2 separate regions of the Homo sapiens genome follow, and region 1 is linked to region 2. The links come from fine-mapping of genetic effects on gene expression. A gene starts in region 2. The other region holds a variant in brackets. All regions are shown on one strand. Distances are between the middles of the regions. Region 1 overlaps FUT8 (fucosyltransferase 8). Region 2 holds the start of FUT8-AS1 (FUT8 antisense RNA 1).

Evidence for each region. PIP is the estimated chance that this variant, and not a neighbour inherited with it, causes the effect.
Region 1: its variant is fine-mapped to the expression of FUT8-AS1 in whole blood (TOPMed, PIP 0.94).

Annotation. Positions count from the first base shown.
Region 1 is chr14:65,501,048-65,503,950 of GRCh38, forward strand. The region is part of intron 2 of FUT8 (fucosyltransferase 8); the gene reads left to right. Among named protein-coding and RNA genes, the nearest start is that of MIR625, 31 kb to the left of the region's middle. RefSeq lists enhancers at 444-503, 534-703. The variant T/G (reference allele first, on the strand shown) is at 1,190.
Region 2 is chr14:65,410,934-65,413,836 of GRCh38, forward strand. It overlaps FUT8-AS1 (FUT8 antisense RNA 1), which reads right to left and starts at 1,684. Exons shown (of 1, transcript NR_024334.1): 1 at 1-1,684. It overlaps FUT8 (fucosyltransferase 8), which reads left to right and starts at 1,797. Exons shown (of 11, transcript NM_001371533.1): 1 at 1,797-2,281. RefSeq lists enhancers at 976-1,295, 2,538-2,903 and silencers at 1,836-1,995, 2,296-2,415, 2,426-2,615.

The sequences.
Region 1 (2,903 bases), 90 kb after region 2:
TTTCCAAAGCGATCAAGATCATGTTAAATTTTATTCCATCTAGCCATGATGGCTCAGTTAGGATCAGGTCAGGAAAACAGTCCACACTAAATACTCGAGGCAGGAGGATTTCTTGAGACCAGGAGTTTGAGACCAGCCTGGGTAACATAGTAAGACCTGTCTCTACAGAATTACAAACAAAAACAAAAAATTTCAGCCCAGAAAATTTAATACAGGGAAGGGATTATACAGGTATTGGAGGGCTGAAAAAGCAAACAGGGAACACTGGGGTAACACAGAGACAATATTTGCAGGAATTAGCCACTATTCATATGGTTGAGGGGGAAATAAGAACTTGGAGTTGGGACCTCATAGAATTGGGGTTCAAAACCTCTGGAGGGGGTACTTCCTGACAGCTGTTGGTATGTCTGAGGGGAATTTCTGAGAGTGCCAGAAAAAGCTGGTGGTTATCACTGCTACTGCTGGGGTGGAGGATCTATGCTGGGCAATGCTGACTGGAAAAAGCATGTACTGCATTCTCCCTCTAGTGTCCTTATTGGCAGTGTGAGGAAGCTAGCTGCAGAAGAGAAAAGTAGTTTTCAGAGTTTTATTTTCAGTATTACAAAGATGAGTATTAAAGGGTAGATTTGGATCTGAGAGAAAATAGCTGAATAACCAGTATATATAGCCTTCTCTTCTGGTCAAAGGAGGCCATAGGCCTTTGGTCTCTTGGTCTCTTTTCCTAGCTACTTGGACCCCAGACCCAGATATTCTTAATGCTGAGGGTTTGGAAGGAAAGTTGTTATTATTATTTAAAAAATTAATTTGTTTAGTTAATGTGATGGGGGAGGGGGCATGAGACGGGTCTACTTTGTCTTTTCTTTTCTTTCTTTTTTTTTTTTGAGACAGTGTCTTGCTCTGATGCCCAGGCTGGAATATAGTGGTGTAATCTTGGCTCTCTGTAGTCCCGAGCTCCCAAACTCAAGCAGTCCTCTCACCTCAGCCACCCAAGTAGCTGGGACTACAGGCACCTGCCACCACACCCAGCTAATTTTTGTATTTTTTGTAGAGACGAGGTTTTGCTATGTTGGCCAGGCTGGTCTCGAACTCCTGGCCTCGAGTGATTCACCCATGTTGGCCTCCAAGTGGTCTGGGATTACAGGTGTGAGCCACCATGCCTGGCTGGGTCCACTTATTTATTGTTATTTTT[T/G]TTTTTGAGACAGAATCTCACTCTGTCACTCAGGCTGGGGTGCAGTGGTGGGATCTCAGCTCACTGCAATCTCCACCCCCCAGGTTCAAGTGATTCTCCTGCCTCAGCCTCCCGAGTAGCTGGGATTATAGGCACCCACCACCATGCCTGGCTAATTTTTGTCTTTTTAGTAGAGACAGGGTTTCACCATGTTGCCCAGGCTGGTCTCGAACTCCAGACCTCAAGTGATCTGTCCGCCTTAGGCTCCCATAGTGCTGGGATTACAGGTGTGAGCCACCGTGCCCGGCCCGGGTCCACTTATTCTGAGATAATTCTGTTACAGCTTTTTTTGGTAACTTACATTTAATCATTAGATACTCCTTCTTTGCCTCTTGAGGTATTTCTGTTTTTTAAAAGCCCTTATTTAAAATGTAAAATAAATAATGGTAAAAGTAATGATGTTACCCATAAACAAAGTTTTAAAATTGGTTGCTTATTAGCCAAACAGTGGTCTGCAGTGGTAACCAACCTCTGAAAAGATTATGCCTTTTTTACTCATTCAAAAATTCCCCCTCCTGCAGAGCTTCTTCAATTTTAATGTGTATATGAATCAGTTGAGGATCTTGGTAAAATACTGATTCTGATTCAATATGTCCCTGGGTAAGGCCTGAGATTGTGCATTTCTAACAAGCTCCCAGGGGAGGCTGGAGCTACTGGTCCCTAGACCAGACTTTTTTAACTCCCTTCCCTCCCTTGAGAACTACTGGTTTGGCTTAGATCCAGTGTTGGACTTGGATGGTTGAGTGGTGAGTGATCATAAAGTAAGAGTTTCTATTGTAAGCCTGCCCGTCTAGAAATATTTTGAGCAATTTTAGTAGAGCTATTTATAGCTGTTTCTTTCCAGGTAGGATCAGAGAAATATATGCTTCTGAATAGGTTAAATTTTCTTCCATAATATAATGCTGCCCTGAATGCAGAAATGTGCCTATCACTTGTAATTTTCCTGGAAGGCGTGAGACTGCTTGGTAATTGTGTACATATTTAAGGGAAACTGAGTAATGGAGGACAGAATAGAACAATTAACAAATTCATGCATCAGATAACTTGCTTTCATTAAAGCCATTGTTACTCTTATTTATTGATTGTTCCTGATGATAGGACATCTGCAGATTTCAAAAAGTGTGTTTAGTGTGAATTTCATACTGATGGCATTTCTCTGCTTTTGACAGTTTCATATACTTAAACTTGTCATTAAAACACAGCATCTTGCCTTGAGCCAAATGAAACTTTGAATAGAGCCCAAATTTATGAAATTGTTAATTTCTCTTTACATCTAGATTTTACTTTCAGTAATTTCTATCTGCTAACACAAATAGAAAGGTAATCTTTCATTTGGTTGCCATCCTTCAAGAGCCTCTCTCTGCCCTTCCCTCCCTGCCTTCCTGGATCTTTCCTTTTGTCTTTACAGACCTAGATTTTGAAAGGTTCTAGGTTCCTTTTGTCTGTTGATACTATGTGAATGTTATCCTTAAGTTTTTAATTCAGGCTACAACTAGACAGATAATGTGTCTCACAATTAGCTGGGGTGAGAGAGTTAAAATGGAAGTTAAGGATTCAGGGGATTCCTACAGATGGGTGAAGAAAAAAGCTCAATGTTAGGATCCTTAACAAAGCATTTTGATTGGCATATGGAGACCTTTGCGTGAACACAAATGTTCATATTTGAATATTTATA
Region 2 (2,903 bases):
TTAAAATATTTTTAAAATGCTGTGTTTAAACTAAGAAGTAAATATCCACCCCACCTCTGACTTCTAAAAATTATCTAAAGTATGACTGGTAAGATTTTTACCTTTAATCCCACATAAGTCTAAAATTTGTGTTCATTTCCAACAACCAAAGTGTGTCACTTTTATACCAGAATTTTGTCCTGCTTATACGTTTAGTACAGAAATCTCATGGGAGAGAGCATCCATGCATTTACAAATTGTTATTGAATTATTTTATTGAATGATGACACCCAAACTGAGCTAGAACATAATTCTGGCTCTGCTAGTACATCTTCTGTGTGATCTTGGACAAGTCACTCTACTTTCCTTTCAATTTTCTTTTCTCACAGGGAGATAATCATAAAAACGACTGTAAAGTACAGCACTTCATAGAGTGCTTTTTGTTTAAAGAGCTGACAATAAATACGAGTCTCAAGGTCTAGGAAAGCCTCCCTCACAACCTGAGCTGCTTGAGGACAAGGGATTTTCTTTTGAATCAGCAGTACCTTATTTGTGTATCTGTGATAGAGTTCCTGGTACATAAGAAGGTCTCAATAAATATGTGAATTTATGAATATTAGGCAGATTGCAACCTTGACAGGCCACTGCCTCTTAAATCTCCTTTCTGTGATCTTTTAATATTTAACATCTAAAAGGCCGCCGCTACTTGCTTTGGGATAAGTATCCCCGGTATGTACTTTAAAATGCCCAAGCCTAGAGAAATGATTCTTGTCTTAAGGGCACCATTTCGCTCTCCCACCGTAAAGCGCCCCAGGCTTGGGATCTGGGTCCCAAGGCTACAGGGAAGAGTTTGGAACGGGAAGCTCATCTTCCGGCCCTCTGATTGGCCGGCTCGCACTCCACTCACGCGGCGCGCAGCTCTGATTGGCCTCGGCGGCACCCCTCGTCCCGCGACTACTTTGTGTGCTGGGGCGGCGCGCTCCGGTCCTCCCGCTCAGCTGGCGGTCTGGGCTGCTCTGGGGCAGCCCTTCGGTCCACTGCTCTGCATCGCGGGCGCCGGGAATTTTCCGAGTCCGAGCGGGTAGGACGCATCCTAGGGCAAAGCCTCTCCCCTCTCCCCGTGCTGTTCTCTTTCCCGTACTAAATAAACTTCCGCCTCAGAGGGGCTGTCGCAGCCGCGGGTCGGGAGAGGCCGGGCATCGAACTCAGGCCCTCGTGGGGGGGGTCTTTCTCTTCGAGTGAATGTGGAAACAGCTCTTACAAGATAAAGTAGGGCTTCGCTGAGTCTCCTGGGGGAGCGATGCCATTGTAGGATCGCGCTGGAAGCAGCAGTCAAGCGGCCAAATGCGGGCTGCAGGGGCTGAGCAGCAGCAGCGCGCACCCCTAAAAGTAGCAAGGAGCCAGCTTCAAAACCTCTAGTGCGGGTGCCCCCTAGGGCCGCCGACTGAGCTGGCACGGGCCGGTCCATTCCCGGCGCTGTAGGGAGCACAGCATTCTCTGGAGGCGAGTCTCCTCCCGGGATCCAGGATCCGCTCGCGCCCCGCTCAGCCTCCGGCCTTCAGGCGGTAGAGGGCGGCCTACGCCTGTGTGCGAGCCGGAGCCGGCGTGCGCAGCCGCTGCCCTGCTGGAACTGTGCCGTCCCGCTGTGGCCCGCGGCTCTGCTAGGCGGTGGATGCTGCTGCTACGCTCTCCACCGGCGCAGCGAGGAAGGGGGCGGGGAGAATCCCTGGCACATGCCAGGGTCGCCGTAGGTGGCAGCGGCCGGCGCATGCGCGCCCTCTCCCAGAAGCCAGGAACGCCGAGGGGCGCGCTCCCCCATTCGCGCGCGCACGCCGGCGCTGGCCGAGGCTTCCCCGCCTGCGCTCGTTGTCAGAGCCGCTCCGGCGCGTGCGCGCGTTATCTCCGGCCGACCCGAGCAGCCGGTTCCCTCCTCTCCAGGCCCCCTCCCCATCCCACCCCCGCCGCCTGGCCCCAGCCGACCCGTCCCTTCGTCTCCCCGCGGAATGGGGCCGGCACTGCTCAGGGTCGCGCGCCCTGGACCCAGCTCGCTCTCGGTCTCGCGCTGTCAGCGACTGCCCGGCTCGCGCCGCCTCGCGCTCTGCCTCAGTCAGTGGCGCCGAAGGCTCCGTTAAGCGGCGGCGGCGGTTCCTGTTTCCGTTTCTTCCTCTCCGTTCGGTCGGGAGTAGCATCCTCCACTCAGCCACCCTTCCCACTCCCCCATCGTGGGGCAGCTGCGGCTGAGGGCTGTGGCTTTGGCAGCTGCGACGGGGAGCGGCGGAGACCGCCTCTGCTCCCGCCTGGGGTAAGGGGGCGTTTTGGGAGCCGGGCCCCGCGCGCCTCGGGGTCTTGGGCTGGGCTGCGCGCGGGATCTGAGGAGGCTCCGCGGCTGTCCCTGCTCGTTCACCCGGGCCTGTTGCTGCAACTGCTGCCGGTTAACCAGCGGCTCTCGGAAAAGTGGGGAGGGAGCCCCCGGGACGCTCTGGCGGATGCCTTGGCGCAGCCCCGGGGGCGCGGGCAGAGGGTGAGGGGCGCCCGCCTCTCCAGCCGGGACGCGGAGCTGCGCCGCTGCTGCCCTCGGCGTCGCGCATCCTTGCCTAGGGCAGGGGCCAAAGCCTAGGGAAGGAGAAGGGTTGGGGGCGGGGGTGGGAGGTGTCCGTCGTTTCCCCTCCACACCTACCTTCCCTTCGTCAGCAGCTCGGTCCCTGGAGTCGCGGTTTGTGGGGAGGAAGATGCCCGTGCGTTATGGGCTCTTTCTGAGTGCTGCTCGGGCTAGAAAGCAGGGAGTGGACCCTCACAAAGATCCGCGAGGGACTGATGCAGGGCAGTTAAAGGCTTGAGTGCAGCTGTACTCCCTTTTGATGTGCAAATGACGAGCTGGCGGCTTTTGAGTATCAACTTATTTGGGAAGGTTAAATGAGTCCATA